2 separate regions of the Homo sapiens genome follow, and region 2 is reported to be linked to region 1. The links are microRNA targets in miRTarBase. Many come from high-throughput screens and were not tested one by one. Region 1 holds a microRNA gene; the other region holds the end of a gene's coding sequence.

Evidence for each region. Region 1 holds the annotated microRNA hsa-miR-6772-5p (UGGGUGUAGGCUGGAGCUGAGG, at 3,012-3,033, opposite strand). A microRNA usually pairs through its seed, bases 2 to 8, with sites in the 3' UTR of a target mRNA and lowers its output. Matches are read on the target gene's strand: a 7mer-m8 pairs with bases 2 to 8, a 7mer-A1 pairs with bases 2 to 7 and ends in A, and an 8mer does both.
Region 2: miRTarBase lists ZNF394 as a target of hsa-miR-6772-5p. The part of its 3' UTR that is shown has no 7-base or 8-base seed match.

The regions. Positions count from the first base shown.
Region 1 is chr16:57,769,315-57,778,029 of GRCh38, forward strand. MIR6772 (microRNA 6772) reads right to left here and starts at 3,038; the gene lies at 2,975-3,038. It overlaps KIFC3 (kinesin family member C3), which reads right to left. Exons shown (of 20, transcript NM_001130100.2): 4 at 2,909-2,974; 5 at 2,229-2,372; 6 at 1,884-2,123; 7 at 1,213-1,386; 8 at 494-641; 9 at 281-411. RefSeq lists enhancers at 5,328-5,906, 6,457-6,516, 6,485-7,063.
Region 2 is chr7:99,486,973-99,495,687 of GRCh38, reverse strand. ZNF394 (zinc finger protein 394) reads left to right here. Exons shown (of 3, transcript NM_032164.4): 3 at 1,057-2,448. The coding sequence ends at 2,159. ZNF789 (zinc finger protein 789) reads right to left here. Exons shown (of 5, transcript NM_213603.3): 5 at 8,083-8,715. The coding sequence ends at 8,200. Among named protein-coding and RNA genes, the nearest start is that of ZNF394, 9.0 kb to the left of the region's middle.

The DNA.
Region 1 (8,715 bases):
TGTGAGCCACCGCGCCTGGCCTGCATGTTTGAAATATGAAGTTATCTGTAACATGTTTGGTTTAAAGAATCATAGTAAGACAAATAGCCGAATGCCTGCCCTGAGCAGTCTAGTTTCAAACAGGGCCTATAAGGGCAGCAGTAAGTGTCATGGGGGGTGGGGCAGGGGCTGCTGTCTGAGCGGCTTTGTCTGAGCTTTGGAGGGACGCCCTGAGTGGATGTCGTGCCTCTCCCAGTGCACCCCCTTAGCCTGGACCCTCCCACCCACTGCCCTCGCTCACCTCGGCCTTGACACTCCTGAGGGCCTCCTGCAGCAGCAGTGGGAAGCCGCGCACCTGCCGCTTGAGCCCATTGTAGTCGTTGGTGAGGGTCCGCAGTGCCGGCTGCAAGGTCAGCAAGTTGGTCCGGACGCCTATGGGGACACTCGGGCTGTGAGGCGGGAGGGGATGAGGGGCCGCGGCGTGGGGCAGACAGGGCCCAGCTGGTCAGCTCACCTGCTAGATTCTCGTGCACAGCCTTCATCTCCACCTGGGCTCTGGCAAAGGCCTCCTCAATGGCCCGGTTCTTGTCCTCTTCCAGGGACTGCATCTCCTCCAGCATCTGCCCATGGGCCCGCTCCAGCTCTGACTCGTACATGGCAATCTGGCCAGACCAGGAAAAGGCTCAGTACCTCGAGGTGCGGGAGAGAGAGGGGCAGGTGCCACACCGAGAAAGAAACTGGTCACCTCCCATGCACATGAACACACATGCACACACACATGTGCACACCCAGAGGGGCAGAATGGCCTTGTCTCCCTCCCCCTACAGGGCTGTGAGCTCTGGGCATTGGCTCCAACACCAACCCAGTGCTGAGCACACATCAGGTGCCCAAGCCACGTGCCCTCAGGAAGGTAGGAGAGGGCCTCTGTGATGACAGTGACAAGTGCCATGTAGAGCTTACTGAGCACAGCCTGTGTGCTGGGCCGTGGGCACAAAGCTTCTTGGGATGACGTTCCTGAGTCCCCACTGTGAGGTGGGTTCTGGGACCAGATCGTGTTATAATAGATGAGGAAAAGGAAACCAGACAAAACTTGCCCTGGGTCCCGTGGCCATCGGGGAGAGGAGGGACTGGACCCCGTGTCTGTGGGGTACCCAAATGTTTAACCGATGCATTGGCCCAAGGGCCTGCCTCTGGCTTCCTGGCTGGGCATGTGCCCCCACACAGCCTGGGTACCTGCGCCCGGAGCCGCGCGGTCAGCTGGTGTGAGCTCTGCAGCTGCTGTTCCATCTCCTTCAGCACCTGCCTCTGCATAGCCACCTGCTCCTGCAGGTGCTGGTTCCGGGCCTGGGACTCGCTGAGGGCCTGCTTGGTCTTGGACGACTCCACCTCCACTGTCTTGATGACATACTGCAGGGTGAGGGAGGAATGGCACGTGGAGCCAGCGGGCACCGTACCTCACCCAAGAGCCTGAGACGCAGCAGGCCAGGGGAAGGAACTCTCGGGAACATCCCACTCAGAAACCAGAAAAAAACTAGAGGAGCCTTGAGGTCCTGGCTTTCCAGAAAGCTGGGGGGGTCTCCTGGAACCTTCTCAGCTTAACAAGAGGCTACTATGAGCCTGGCTGGGGCCCCATCCTGGGTACAGACAAGAAAGGCAAAAAGACGAGGGCAGAATCCAGGGGCTGCGCTGCATCTGTGCCTGGCACCTCAGCTGTTGGATACCTACTCGGTGCCTGGCCCTGGATACAGGAAGGGGAAGGGGCAGGACCAAGCACAGAACTGGAATGATTCTTCCACCCACACACACCTACCTATTCACCAGGACAAGCCCCCCTTATGGGCTAGCCCTGCCCCAGGTGCCAGGGGCCTTGGGCTGAGGCACAGATCAGGTGGGCCAGGGCTCACCTTGACAGGTGGGGACTGGGCCCGCAGGCTGGCAATGGTCTCGTGGCTGTCACGCAGGCGCCGACTAAGCCGCTCCTCCTCCTGTGCCTTCTCAGCCAGGCAGTCCTTGAGTCGCAGCTCCACCTCAGCCAGCCGGTCGGTCTTCTGCTGCACCTCTAGGTTCAGCTCTGACAGCATGCCTTTGCTTTCCGCCATCTCCAGCTGCAGCTGGGACAGCTTGTCACGGAGCTGGGCGCTCTCCTGCAGCCATTGGGAGGCACTGGATGAGTGCAAGGGACAGGCTCACTGTGAGGAGCTGGGGTGGCCCTCCAGGACCAGCATGGGGACCACGGCCATTCTGCTCACCTGGCTGTGCTCACAACCTGGGCAGGGACCTGCTGGCTTTGTGCGCAGCTCTTGCAGCTCGGCCTCACAGCGCCGCATCTCCTGCCTCAGTCGCTCATTCTCCACCATCAGCAGGTCCCGGTGCTTCTCCAAGTCGGTGCCCCCCTGCAGAGAGCCAGGGCCGAGGGGGCGCATGTGGCGAGGGCAGATGACGGGGGAAAGAAGAGAGGCCCGCGGAGATGGCACAAGGGCAGGGAAGAGAGGAGAGGTGTGGAGAAAGGCAGAGGGAAGGAGAAAAAGAAAAAGAAAAAGGCAAGGGCAAGAGAGGAGGGAACAAGCTCAAGAGAGAAACCAAGAGAAAGACAGTGGAGGGCAGAGTTGAGAAGGGTGGTGACCCAGAGCCTGCTCTCCCTGCTGCCCCCACCCTATTCTGAGTGTGAAAGTCACAAGGAGAGACATATTTATACCAGGGTTCACACTCCCGTTTAATGTCAGCAACAGAGAAGGAACCTCCCACCCCCTGGAGCCACAAGGCCTCTGAGGGTACTAGGAGGTGGGGATAAGGCTCTCGGTGTGTTTCTGAGACAGGGTGGGATATGCGGGCTCAGGAGAGAGAGGGTCGCACCCCTGCCCCTGGCAGGGCCCATCTGCACAAGGCAGGCCAGGCCCTGCGCTACCCCAGGACAGCCTTGTGGCCTCACCAGCTCAGATCGCAGTCGGCTCACTTCCTGGGCCTGGCTAATGAGCTTCTCCTTCAGGTGTTCTACCTGTGGGCACAGAGTCAGGAGCAAGGTGAGCCTCAGTCCTCAGCTCCAGCCTACACCCAGGCCTCCTGCCCAGCACCAGGGATGACTGATGTGGCTGTGGCTTCTTCTAAGGCTGTGGCCTTAGGTTCCCCTATGTTCAAGCATCCCATCACACCTGGGACTTCAGGTGAGAGAAACCTGGGCTGGTGCTGACAGCCTCCCGCACCCTCTCCCTCCACAGGACAGAGCCAACCCCAGCTCTTCAGGAAAGCCCAGAGGGCAAGTGCAACCAAGGCCACCCCGATGCCCCCTGGGCCCACCCAACGGCAGCCCACCCTCAGGACCCCTCACTACACGAGCCCCTCCCAAAGTCCTGTACCTGCCTGTGTCTATGTAATTTTATGTTCTCTCTCTTTAAAAGGGCCCCCAGATGGTACATACTCCAGGTCCTCCGAGCCCTAGATCCACCCTGGCCCAGCCCCCAGAATTTTCCACTTGGGGTGGTCTCTGGCAAGTCAGCCTGTGGAGATGGGTCTGCCAGTGGTCAGGGCACACTCAGAACCTGTGTCCACCCCTGCTCCCAATCTGCCTTGCAGGAAAGCTGTGGCAGCCAAGGCTCTTATAGGGGGAAGGGGGTGTGCACCCCATGAGGAAGCCACGGTTACCTAGCTTATCCGGACCCCAGAAGAGGGGACACCATCATGGTGCCAGTCCCATGAGGGCAGATCCCAGGGGAGCAACCCTTCCCCGGCGCTGTCCTCCAGCCACCCATCCCCTCCCAAGGCCCTAGACCCTGGTCTCACATCAGCCCACCCCCAGAAACCTCTCTCAGGAAACAATTCACAGACACAGACTTTGGCTCCAGCTTCCGTCAGGGCATGTTTAGTACTTTTCTTGCAGAACGTCCTGTGGTGAGCAACCCCCACCTCGGGAAAGGTGCGCTAAGAGCCAGATTCCTGTGTGGTGGTTTAGGAGGTTTACACAGCTGGGTTCTCATTACTAAATGATAGGCAACAACGTCCACTGATTACAGGGGACAGCCAGGTAAGGCAGGTGAGGGGCTGTGCAGGGCTTGGCTCCCAAGAACCCTTTAAGAAGGCGGCCACCACGTACTCTCCTCGGACGACAGGAGGTGAGAACGCACACCCAGCATCGCCAAAATTCTCATCTTTCAAGAGAGGCCTAGGCCAGCCTGAGCAACACAGCAAGACCCCATCTCTACAAAAAGTTTCAAAACTCAGCCGAGTGCACCAGTGCACGCTTATAATCCCAGCTGTAATCCGGGGGGTTAGGTGGGAGATCACCTGAGCCCAGGAGTTTGAAGCTGCAGTAAGCTATGATAGCATCACTGTACCCCAGGGTGACAGAGCGAGGCTGTCTAAAAAAAATAAAATAAAAATAGAGGCTTAGAGTCCGCCCCCTTAGCACTCAGCAGCATGCATCAGCCATAGTTAAGACAGGCCGGACATTTGGATTTTGGGGGTGTGTGTAAAATCTCCCTACTTTACATGGTTGAGATGTCATCAAACAAGTCTGTGTCATCAAACAAGGTAGTGTTCGGCCTCGGAGGTCCCTGTCTCCCAGGGTGGGAGAGAACGGCTGACTCACAGCAGCTAGGCCAGCTCTGAGTGGTCAGGGAGGAAGTGGACCAAGGGATCCACCCCCACCTCTGAGGAAAAGGCCAGGGAGCTGGCACTGCCTGCTCTTGGTGGGGCAGGGGGATTCCAAGATGCAAGACCCAGGTGAAAGGCTGGGGGCCCAGCCAGGCCTCCTGGGGGACAAGCAGGTGACCCAAGGGCCAGACCCCTGGAGGTCAGCTCTGCCGCCACCTGCACAAACACATTCCTTCCTAGCAACACGCTGGGCCACGGGCCAGGCAGGGAGGCAGAGCTTGTGCCACTTCTCTGCCCGCTCAGTGCCTGATGAGAGGACGGCTCAAGTCCTTTGGCCCCTGGGTGGGAGTAGGGACAGTTTGCATGAGGCAGCCTTTCTGCTTTCGTCCTAAAATTGAGAATACCCTGAATAAGCACCCTTAGAGGAGTGGGCAGGTGAATTACAATGTGTATATATAGTACATAGACTATTCTGTCATCATTACATTCATGTTTATCAGGAGTTTTAAATGTCATGGGGAAAGGCTCATCAACATATTAAGTCCAAGAAACATCTGAAAAACCATTAAGTGTACAGCACTAAAAAGTGGGGGTCTCTGGGCTGTGGAATTATAGTTGACAAAATCTTTATGCTTTTCAGTAATTTTTTTTTTTCTTTTTGAGACAGGGTCTCACTCTGTCACCCAGGCTGGAGTGCAGTGCCTCGATCTAGGCTCACTGCAGCCTAGACCTCCTGGACTCAAGCCATCCTCCCATCTCAGCCTCCCGAGTAGCTGGGACTACAAGCACATACCATCACGCCCGGCTAATTTTTTTTTTTTTTTTAATGTATAGAAGGGTCTTGCCATTTTGCCCAAGCTGGCCTTGAATTCCTGGCCTCAAGCAGTCTTCCCGCCTCAGCCTCCCAAAGTGCTGGGATTACCGTTGTGAGCCCCTGCGCCCGGCCAGTAATTTTTCAGTCTCAAAGAATACGTAATTCCTACTCTCCCTACCCTGACATAAGTGAACTGACTTCCTCTTCAAAAGGTTGAAGTCTCCTTCCACGCCCCCTCCCTCCCCAGAAAGGCTGCTGCCTCAGCATGGGGCTGGGCGCACTAACCTTGATCATCTCCACTGCCGCCCCTGCCAGGCACTCAGACCCTGATGCAGGGAGAGTGGGGTTTGCCAGTGTTTGCTGGGGGTGGGAGGCGGGATACCCACCAGCCACCTGCCTGCGGCCCAGGGTTCTGTTCTGTCCTTGCATCACAATGGGAACCTGGGGGCTCCTGGGCTCTGTCCAGAATCTCAGAGGGGCACCCAAAAGGAAGTGGCCGCAACCGCAACCAGGGCAGGCTGGGGAGCATGGGGGATGGTGAGGGAGTTGAGGAAGGGGCTCTAAAGGCCCCTTTGTTCAGAGGTGTCAGACACTAGGTCATCTCTGGCTTCTTGAGGGCAGCAAAGCAGGGGGAATGTGACTGAGACGCAGCAGACTGGCACCACGAGCACTCTGGCCAAGGCACCAGTGGCCTGCTCCGTGGCAGGTGGTTGGCCAGCTCTACTGGGGGCTAGGTCTCGGGCTTGTAGGGAAGATGTCTGCTTTCTCCTGCACTTGAAGGCAGGCAATCTCTCAGAGTTAGGGAAAACAGGCAAGAAGTCAGAGAGAAACGGAGGCACCTGGGGAAAGCGGATGGAAGATGGCCTGGGAGCAGTGAGAGCCAAGAGCAGGCAGGGCCTTCCTCAGGGAAGACTGAGGGCCCTTCACACACTCACCGCAGCTTCCAGCCAGCAAGGGCCGTCCATGTCTCTAAGCCCAACAGGGGAGGGTCCCGAGTGCCACCCTGGGCCCGATACATACTTGTGGCCACAAAGGGGCAGCAGGCACATGCCTGAGCCCAAGACACAGGACGGAGGAGAAAGCAGACTCCCCACTAGGCGGCTGAAACGGTCCCAGGACAGCATGGACGTCAATCCAGGGCTGAGGACGGACCAGGCTGGGGCTGTGCGACACTCCTCCCGGGCCCAGGCTCCTCATCAGCCAGAGCAACTGAATCACGGGCCTGCTGCAGGGGGCGTCACCCTGCCTGCTCAAGGGGAAGAGGGAGCTGGGCCTGTCTGCCGGCTTGACACCACCTGCATTTACACTTCACAGGCAGAAGCGGCTCGACCAAGGGTGGGGCCAGCCAGCCCAGGTCTTTGTGTTTTCTCAGCTGTCTGCTTCCAAGGCGGCCTCTTACCATCACAGAAAGAAAACCTGCTGGTTACCTCCTTACCTCCCACCAAGCCCAGTCAACGATCATCAGCTGTCTGCTGAGGAAAAGCGGGCTCTCCCAGGCTGAAGCTGCTGAGCTGGGAAGGCCAGAGGGTCTGGGATCCAGACAACCTCAAGGAAACTCAGCCCAGAGGCCAGCGGGGCGGCCCTGGGAGCACACCCTGTGGAGCCCACAGAAGGCCTGATCCTGGCTGTATGACCACCGGCCAGGCCTATCTGTCCCCTGTCCACGCCACCCTGCCTCTGTTGCCAAGTCTTCACCTCTGGGTCCTTCCGCCACTGATGGGCAGTAATAGCAGCTGACAATTCGAATTCTAAAGCCAGGCTGCCCAGGTTCTAATCCAGACATCCCCTTACCTGCTGGGTAACCTTGGACAAGTCTCTTAAGTTCTCTATGTCTCTTAGTTTCCTTATTTGTATAATGAGGCTACCTCATGGAAGCTGTCTCGAGGATTAAACGAGATGATATATGCGAAGGCAGGGATTTTTGTCTGTTGTGTTCAGCACTGTACTCCCAGTGCCTGGAACAGTGCCTGGTACACAGTAGGTGTTCAGTAAGTACCTGTAGGAAGAATGCTGAATGCATGAGGGGCCAGCCAGAGCAGAACTTGTGGATGAGGTTGGTAAGCAGAGACAGAAAGGGTGGTGGGGCTGGAGCGTGCTAAAGGATGGTCACCTCCACCAAAGGCAGGAGCTGCCACTAGACCTCAAGCGGTGGGTGCCATGTGGGAATGTCAGCTCAGAGGTGCCACATCTTCCAATATTTTATGACAAAAAGGAAGTCTAGAGTTTTATGTGAATTTAATTAAGATTTGAATGTTGGAATTAATTTGATTTTAAAAGCAGGGCAATTAGAACTAATAAATTCAGCAAAGTTGAAGGATACAAAATGAACACACAAAAATCGGTTACATTTCTACAACTAACAATAAACAATCCAAAAAGGAAATTAAGAAAATAATTCCATTTACAATAGCATCAAAAAGAATAAAGTACCGAGGAATAAACTTAACAAAGGTTAAATATTGTATGCTAAAAACTACAAGATATTGGTGAAAGAAATTAAAGATGACACCAATAAATGGAAAGACATTCCATGTTCATGGATTAGAAGATTTAATATTGATAAGGTGTCAGTACTACCCAAAGTGATCTACAGATTCAATGCAATGCCTAACAAAATCCCAATGACATTTTCTAAAGAAATAGAAAAATCCATATCAAGGGACACCACATAGCTAAAACAGTCTTGAAAGACTGAAGGTCTCACACTTCCTGATTTCAAAACTCACTAAAAAGCTACAGCAATTGGCCAGGCGCGGTGGCTCATGCCTGTAATCCCAGCACTTTGGGAGGCCGAGGCAGGCGGATCACCTGAGGTCAGAAGTTTGAGGCCACCCTGGCCAACGTGACGAAACCCCATCTCTACTAAAAATACAAAAATTAGCCGGGCCTCATGGCAGGCGCCTGTAATCCCAGCTACTCAGGAGGCTGAGGCAGGAGAATCGCTTGAACCCGAGAGGCAGAGGTCGCAGTGAGCTGAGATTGCACCACTGCACTCCCGCCTGGGCAGCAGAGCAAGACTCCATCTCAAATAAAAAAAAAATTAAAAAAAAAAAAGCTACAGCAATCAAAGCAGTGTGGTACTGACATTAAAACAGACATAAAGAGCAATGGAATGGAATACAGAGTCCAGAAATAAACCCTCGCATATATGGTTAAATGATTTTTGACAAGGTTGCCAAGATCATTTAATGTGGGAAAGGATAATCTTTTCAACAAATGGTGCTGAGAAAACTGGATATCCACAGGCAAAAGAATGGAGTTGGATCCTTACCTTATACCATATACAAAAATTAACTCAAAATAGATCAAAGAGGGCCAGGCGTGGTGTAATCCCA
Region 2 (8,715 bases), not on the chromosome of region 1:
GATCACTCCACTGCACTCCAGCCTTGGCAACAAGAGCGAAACTCCATCTCAAAAAAATAAAATAGCTGGGTGTGGTGGCTCACGCCTGTAATCGCAACACTTTGCAAGGCCGAGGGGGGTGGATAACAAGGTCAGAGGAGTTCGAGACCATCCTGGCCAAGATGGTGAAACCTCGTCCCCACTAAAAATACAAAAAAATTAGCCGGGTGTGGTGGTGGGTGCCTGTAATCCCAGCTACTTGGGAGGCTGAGGCAGGAGAATCACTTGAACCTGGGAGGCAGAGGTTGCAGTGAGCTGAGATCATGCCACTGCACTCCAGCCTAGGCAACAGAGCAAGACTCCATCTCAAAAATAAAATAAGATACGATAAAATAAAATATAGGCTGGGTGCTGTGGCTCACGCCTGTAATCCCAGAAGTCTGGGAGGCCGAGGCAGGCGGATCACGAGGTCAGGAGTTCAAGACCAGCCTGGCCAATATGGTGAAACACTGTCTCTACTAAAACTAGCAAAATTAGCACCTGTAATCCCTGCTACTTGGGAGGCTGAGGCAGGAGAATCACTTGAACCCAGGTGGCAGAGGTTGCAGTGAGCCGAGATCATGCCACTGCACTCCAGCCTGGGCAACAGAGTGAGACTCCATCTCAAAATAAATAAATAGCAACAGAGTAATACTCTGTCTCAAAATAAATAAATAGGGAGGCTGAGGCGAGCGGATCATGAGGTCAAGAGATAGAGACCATCCTGGCCAACATGGTGAAACCCCATCTCTAATAAAAATACAAAAATTAGCTGGGTGTGGTGGCGTGCACTTGTAATGCCAGCTACTTGGGAGGCTGAGGTAGGATAATCAGTTGAACTCGGGAGGCAGAGGTTGCAGTGAACTGAGATCGGACCACTGCACTCCAGCCTGGTGACAAAGCAAGACACCGTCTCAAAAAATAAATTAATTAATTAAAAAGTAAAAGGGGTTTGAGGGTTTAACATTCTGCCAGCACTTGCTTATTTCTGTGTTGCACAGGGATGCACTGGCAGGAATTTGTATTTTCACGTTTCAGGTTTGGAAAGCAGAGTGGAGAACAAAGAGTTGATTCCAATGCAACAAATTTTAGAAGAAGCGGAGCCACAGGGGCAACTACAAGAAGCGTTCCAGGGGAAGCGCCCCCTGTTTTCTAAGTGTGGCAGTACCCATGAGGACAGGGTGGAAAAGCAGTCCGGAGACCCCTTGCCCCTGAAACTTGAAAATTCTCCTGAAGCAGAAGGACTCAACAGCATCTCAGATGTCAATAAGAATGGTTCCATAGAAGGGGAAGACTCTAAAAATAATGAATTGCAGAACAGTGCCAGGTGTTCCAACCTTGTTCTATGTCAGCACATCCCGAAAGCAGAGAGGCCCACTGACAGTGAGGAACACGGGAACAAGTGCAAGCAAAGTTTCCACATGGTGACGTGGCACGTGCTGAAACCTCACAAGTCTGACAGTGGAGACAGTTTCCATCATTCCAGCCTTTTTGAGACCCAGAGGCAGCTCCATGAAGAAAGACCTTATAAATGTGGTAACTGTGGGAAGAGTTTCAAACAACGCTCTGACCTCTTTAGACACCAGAGAATCCACACAGGTGAGAAACCCTATGGCTGCCAAGAATGTGGGAAAAGCTTCAGCCAGAGTGCTGCCCTGACCAAGCACCAGAGGACACACACAGGCGAGAAGCCGTACACCTGTCTGAAATGTGGGGAGCGCTTCAGGCAGAATTCACACCTAAATCGTCATCAAAGTACCCACAGTAGAGACAAACATTTTAAATGTGAGGAATGCGGGGAAACCTGTCATATTTCCAACCTTTTTAGACATCAGAGACTACATAAAGGGGAAAGACCCTATAAGTGTGAAGAATGCGAGAAGAGCTTCAAACAGCGCTCTGACCTCTTTAAACACCACAGAATCCACACTGGGGAGAAGCCCTATGGATGTTCCGTCTGTGGGAAACGCTTCAATCAGAGTGCAACCCTCATTAAACACCAGAGAATTCACACTGGGGAAAAGCCTTACAAATGTCTTGAATGTGGGGAAAGATTTAGACAAAGTACACACCTTATCCGACACCAAAGAATTCATCAAAATAAAGTGCTGTCGGCTGGGCGTGGTGGCTCACGCCTATAATCCCAGCACTTTGGGAGGCCAAGGCAGGCAGATCATTTGAGATCAGGAGTTTGAAACCAGCCTGGCCAACATGGTAAAATCCTGTCTCTACTAAAAATACAAAAATGAGCCGGGCATGGTGGTGCATGCCTGTAAGCCCAGCTATTCGGGAGGCTGAGGTAGGAGAATCACTTGAACCCAGGAGGCGGAAGTTGCAGTGAGCTGAGATCATGCCACTGCACTCCAGCCTGGGCAACAGAGCGAGACTCCATCTCAAAAAAGAAATAAAGTGCTGTCATTTTGATATGTTTCTATGTGACTTGGCCTGTTTCTTTTCTTGTCCAGAACCACATTCCTTGCCATTTGGAGTATATCAGTCAATTATGGATCTTCCTTGAGTATCTCCTACAAGATAGGTTCAATCTGTCCTGAGCCTCATTACAGACTGATAGTTTCAGTGAGTGAGGAATGAGGAAGTAGGGGGCCTTCTGAAATGTGAGCTGATGCCAGGTAAGAGACTTCTGATGATAAGAGCCAGGCTGACATGTAACGGGGTTCTGTCCTTGTTATCTGCGCTCTACCTTTATGTATTATTTTTGAGACTGGGTCTCGTCGTAGCCCTCCAGCGGGAGCCCAGTGGTGTGATCGTGGTTCACTGTGGCCTCAACCTCCTGGGCTCAAGTGATCCTCTTGCCTTAACCTCCTGAGTAGCTGGGACCACAGGCACACACCACCACACCCAGCTTTTTTTTTTTTTTAAGAGATAGGGTCTTGCTATGTTGCCCAGGCTGGTCTCAACCTCCTGGGCTCAAGGAATCCTCCTGCCTCAGCTTCCCAAAGTGCTGGAATTACAGACACAAGCCACCACACCCAGCCTACCTTTATTTACTTTTTTTTTTTTTTTTTTTTTGAGATGGAGTCTCGCTCTGTCACCCAGGCTGGAGTGTAGTGGCATGATCTTGGCTCACTGCAACCTCCACCTCCTGGATTCAAGCAATTCTCCTGCCTCAGCCTTCCAAGTACTTGGGACTACAGGTGCACCATGCCATGCCCAGCTAATTTTTTGTATTTTAGTAGAGATGGGGTTTCACTGTGTTGCCTAGGCTGGTGGTGAACTCCTAAGCTCAGGCAGTCCGCCCACCTCAGCCTCCCAAAGTGCTGGGATTACACACGAGCCACCATGCCCGGCCTTTTTATTCACTTTTGAACCAAATCTTGCTCACTACAATTATTAATACTTGCCTAAGAATGTATTTTAGTCATTTAAAATTTGCCTTTGGCCTTAGATTGTAGAGAGGGTTTCAACTACTTCATAATCCCCAAAAGATCTGGTAAAGCTCAGTACTCAAAAGAAGCACTCTATTTTTCACTTTCCAGAAAACCTAATTTTGCATAGTCCCTCTTTCTTTCCCATTCTAGGAGCCTAGGAGTTCAGTTTTATGACTTGCTGATTTCTTTTTTTTTTTTTTTTTTTCTTGAGACGGAGTCTCGCTCTGTCGCCCAGGCTGGAGTGCAGTGGCGCAATCTCGGCTCACTACAAACTCCACCTCCCGGGTTCATGCCATTCTTCTGCCTCAGCCTCCTGAGTAGCTGGGACTACATGCACCCCCACCATGCCTTGCTAATTTTTTGTATTTTTAGTAGAGATGGGGTTTCACTGTGTTAGCCAGGATGGTCTGGATCTCCTGACCTCATGATCCGCCCGCCTTGGCCTCCCAAAGTGCTGGGATTACAGGCTGGAGCCACTGTGCCTGGCTTTTTTTTTTTTTTTTTTTTTTGAGACAGATTCTCTGTCGCCCAGGCTGGAGTGCAGTGGCATGATATCGGCTCACTGCAACCTCCGCCTCCCAGGTTCAAGCAATTCCCCTGCTTCAGCCTCCCGAGTAGCTGAGACCACAGGCACTCGCCACCACACCCGGCTGATTTTTTGTAGTGTAGTAGAGACAGGGTTTCACCATGTTGGCCAAGATGGTGTCTATCTCCTGACCTCGTGGTCCGCCCGCCTCAGCTTCCAAGTTTCTAATCATGCCTTGGTCTTTCCAGTTAGCCCCCAAGCTGAACCCATCGGAAATCCAAGAGTTGCCTTATTAGAACAAAGACATGCATCACTAAGGAAATTCCAATGGGTTTAACAGCTCTGTGTCAGGAACAAGTGTCAAAGACCAAATATGATAAGAAAAGATGCTCTTAGCACCCTTATCCCTCAGGAATTCTCCAAGGTTTGGGGAGCTCTCTGCTAGTCATTGAGGATGAAGACCAGATACATATTTATCATGATATCACAAGGCTTATTATACAAAATTTGAGTATTTCTTGCAGAAGTGAATAAAATAGAACATAAGAATCATCTCCAGTAAAGCAAGTGTGGTTGTCCTTTCCAGGTCCTGTGAAAATGAAGGGAAGAGAGTGTCTGCTCAGCTCCACTAGGGGCTCCCACCATCACGGTCAGGAGACCACTCTCTCCCTGATGTAGGTGAGCTGGGGCACGTGTAATAGAGGCCTCTGCTTGAAGGAATATCATCAGGAAACAGCAGTCAGGGCACTAGTGGCCCCTGACAAACACAGGGCAGAGCCCCGGGTCTAGTCTGGGTGTAGGTGGCTTCTGGGTGATAGTGGCTTCTCTTCCTCTAGGAACTGTTTGGAAACTGAAGAGTGTCTGGCCTGGACAGCACCTACACCTCCCTCTAAGTTTGAAGCCATCTCAGGATGGCTGCGCTTTGGATGTGACTGTTCATTTTCTATGGCTGAGTCTCTCTAGATTTGGCAGTTCCCTGTGGCTCAGTGAATTAGAAACAGTTCTCTCCTGTTTGTACCTTCTTTAAACATGAGGATTAATCTGAGTGACAAGTGCCTGAATGTCTGAACTGGTCATTGGAGAGAATCGTAAATACAAACTATCTTTTTTTTTAAAAAAAAAAAAAAAAAGGTCTCACTTTGTCGCCCAGTCTGGAGTGCAGTGGTGTGATCTTGGCTCACTTGCAGCCTCAACTTCCTGGGCTTAAGCGATCCTTCCACCTCAGCCTCCCAAGCAGCTGGGACTACAGGCATACAACCACCACACCCAGCTAATTTTTGTACTTTAAAAGTATGAGAGAGGCTGGGCACAGTGGTTCACGCCTGTAAGCCCAGCACTGGGAGGCCAAGGCTGGCAGATCACGAGGTCAGGCATTCAAGACCAGCCTGGCCAACATGGCGAACGAAACCCCATCTCTACTGAAAATACAAAAATTAGCTGGGCATGCTGACAGGCACCTGTAGTCCCAGCTACTCAGGAGGCTGATGCAGGAGAATCGCTTGAACCCAGGAGGCGGAGGTTGCAGTGAGCTGAGATCTCACCGCTGCACTCCAGCCTGGAAAACAGAGCGAGACTCGCCATCTCAAAAAAAAAAAAAAAAAAAAAAAAGATGAGGTTTTGCCATGTTGGCCAGGCTGGTCTCAAACTCCTGGGTTGAAGTGATCCACCTGCCTCAGCATCCCAAAGTGTTGGGGATTACAGGCATGACGCAGTGCACCTGGCCTGAGAGCAATATTTGTTTGTTTTTTTTGACACGGGGTCTCACTCTGTCGCCCAGGCTGGAGTGCAGTGGTGCAATCTTGGCTCCCTGCAACCTCCACCTCCCGGGTTCAAGCAATTCTCCTGTCTCAGCCTCCTGAGTAGCTGGAATTATAGGTGCCCACCACCACGCCCGGCAAATTAGAGCAATTTTTAATACAGACATAGGATGATGTTTAGGATATCCAAATAATTTAAATGGATCTCTTATATTGTTGAGCTCTAGGGAGAATACACTCAGCTCAACCTATTTAAACTGAATGTCAGAATGTGCTTAGAATAATTGTGGAAACAGAAGGGATATGGCTTCTCAGAGAACATAATTGACACTTTTTGAATACAAGTAGTTTATTTGTTGGGGAGAGGTTGCAACACTATTAGGGAAGGTGGAAGAGACAGAAGGGAAGTCACCCAATGAGGTATCTACCTTGGGTGAGTGCCTGTGTGCAATTCATGGGGAACCTCTGGAAACTAAAACACATGCTTCAGAGTTTTCCACACATGGGGAGATGGAGAATTTGGTGTTTATCAAATTCCCATCGATGATTGGTTGACAGCTGCTCCCAGAATGTGTTATTACCCCACAGGCCACAAGGTGCAGACACAGTCAGATGAAGCCCACAGAAGGTGTAAGGCCAGAGGGACTTCGGCAGGGCCCACGGCACCTATTACAAATATTGACTTACAACTCTTTTTTTTTTTTTTTCTTTTTTGAGATGGAGTCTTACTCTGTCACCGAGGCTGGAGTGCAGTGGCATGATCTCAGCTCACTGCAACCTCTACCTCCCAGGTTCAAGCGATTCTCCTGCCTCAGCCTCCTGGGTAGCTGGGACTACAGGCGCGCACCACCATGCTCGGCTAATTTTTGTATTTTTTAGTAGAGATGGGGTTTCACCATATTGGCCAGGCTGGTCTCAAACTCCTGACCTCGTGATCCACTCGCCTCAGCCTCCCAAAGTGCTGGGATTACAGGCGTGAGCCACTGCGCCGGGCTGACTTACAACTCTTATCAGAATCTAACATACTCATTTTAGATTATGGGCAACTTTTTTTTTTTTTTTTTTTTGAGATGGAGTCTTGGTCTGTCGCCCAGGCTGGAGTGCAGTGGCGCAATCTCAGCTCACTGCAACCTCTGCCTCCCGGTTGAGGTAGGTGATTCTCCTACCTCAGCCTCCCAAGCAGCTGGGATTATAGGCGCCCACCACTGTGCCTGGCTAAATTTTGTATTTTTAGTAGAGACGGGGTTTCACCATCTTGGCTAGGCTTGTCCTGAACTCCTGACCTTGTGACCCACCCGCCTTGGCCTCCCAAAGTGCTGGGATTACAGGTGTGAGCCACCATGCCCGGCCTGATTATGGGCAACTTTTAGTTCTTCATACCTCACTAGTTACTAGTGAGTAGCCCTTAGTTTTGTTTTGTTTTTTAAGTCTATACGTTAGCATGTAATAGTTGTATGTAATACAGGAAAGGCATTCTTCAATCTTTTTTTTTTTTTGAGATGGAGTCTCACTCTGTTGCTGAGGCTGGAGTGCAGTGGTGTGTTCTTGGCTCACTGCAACCTCCACCTCCCAGGTCCAAGCGATTCTCCTGCCTCAGCCTCCCAAACAGCTAATTTTTGTATTTTCAGTAGAGACGGGGTTTCACCATGTTGGCCAGGCTGGTCTTGAACTGACCTCAAGTGATTCTCCAGCCTCAGCCTCCCAAAGTGCTGGGATTACAGACATGCGACACCATACTGGCTGTCTTCAAACCTTCAATCATTCACAACCCATGCAATGGTCCCCAGCCTGGCAACCACACGGCACAGCTTCTATGGCTCCCTTCTGCCTTAACTAGGCTGGAGGGAATGAGGGCATAGAGGGTGCAAGAGAGTGGACACAACAGCCTAATAACCTTTTCTCTGTTTTTTTTTTTTTTTTTTTTTTGAGACGGAGTCTCGCTCTGTCGCCCAGGCTGGAGTGCAGTGGCACGATCTCAGCTCACTGCAAGCTCCGCCTCCTGGGTTCACGCCATTCTCCTGCCTCAGCCTCCCGCATAGCTGGGACTACAGGCGCCTGCCACCACACCCGGCTAATTTTTTGATTTTTTAGTGGAAACGGGGTTTCACTGTGTTAGCCAGGATGGTCTTGATCTCCTGACCTCGTGATCCGCCCACCTCGGCCTCCCAAAGTGCTGGGATTACAGGCGTGAGCCACCGCGCCCAGCCCTTTCTTTTTTTTTTTTGAGACAGCCTCACTCTGTCACCCAGCCTTCTTAGTAGCTGGGACTGGAGGTGTGAGCCACCACACCTGGCTTTGTTATTTTTTGTAGAGATGGGATCTCACTGTGTTGCCCAAGCTAACATTTCCTTTTAAGCGTTTCTTCACTACAGATTGGCTACACAAAGATGGCTCCCATAGAAAAACCCTTTGTTACATTTATTGCTTTTCATGGAAACAATTACGTGATACACACTTGAAGTAGAGGTTTATAAGTTCTAGTTCTCCAATGACTGCTTTCCAATTAACATCATGTGGATATCTGTCCTTTGTGAGTGCCCTGGTGCTTAATAAAGCTTGTGTGCCACTTGAAAGATTTTCCACATATGACACATTGGTAGGGTTGGCTTCCAGTGTGAATGACCTGATGTCGAAAAAGATTCCTCTTAAAACTAAACGTTTTCCCACATTCTCCACATTGAAAGAATTCCTCCTTTGTATGGATTCTTTGATGCTGAATGAGATCCACATTCCTACCAAAGGACTGTCCACATTCACTGCATTTATGGGTGTTCGGTTTACTGTGAATCTGTTGATGACATAGAAGGGTTGAATGCCGGCCAAAGGCTTTTCCACACTCAAGGCATTTATGGCGTTTTTCTCCACTATGGATCACCTGATGTCGAATAAGGGTTGAATTCTGACTAAACGTTTTTTCACATTTGCTACATTTATAAGGTTTTTCTTTGGTGTGAATCCTCTTATGTTCAACAAGATACGCGAGCTGCCGAAAACACTTTCCACAGTCATGACATCTGTATGGCTT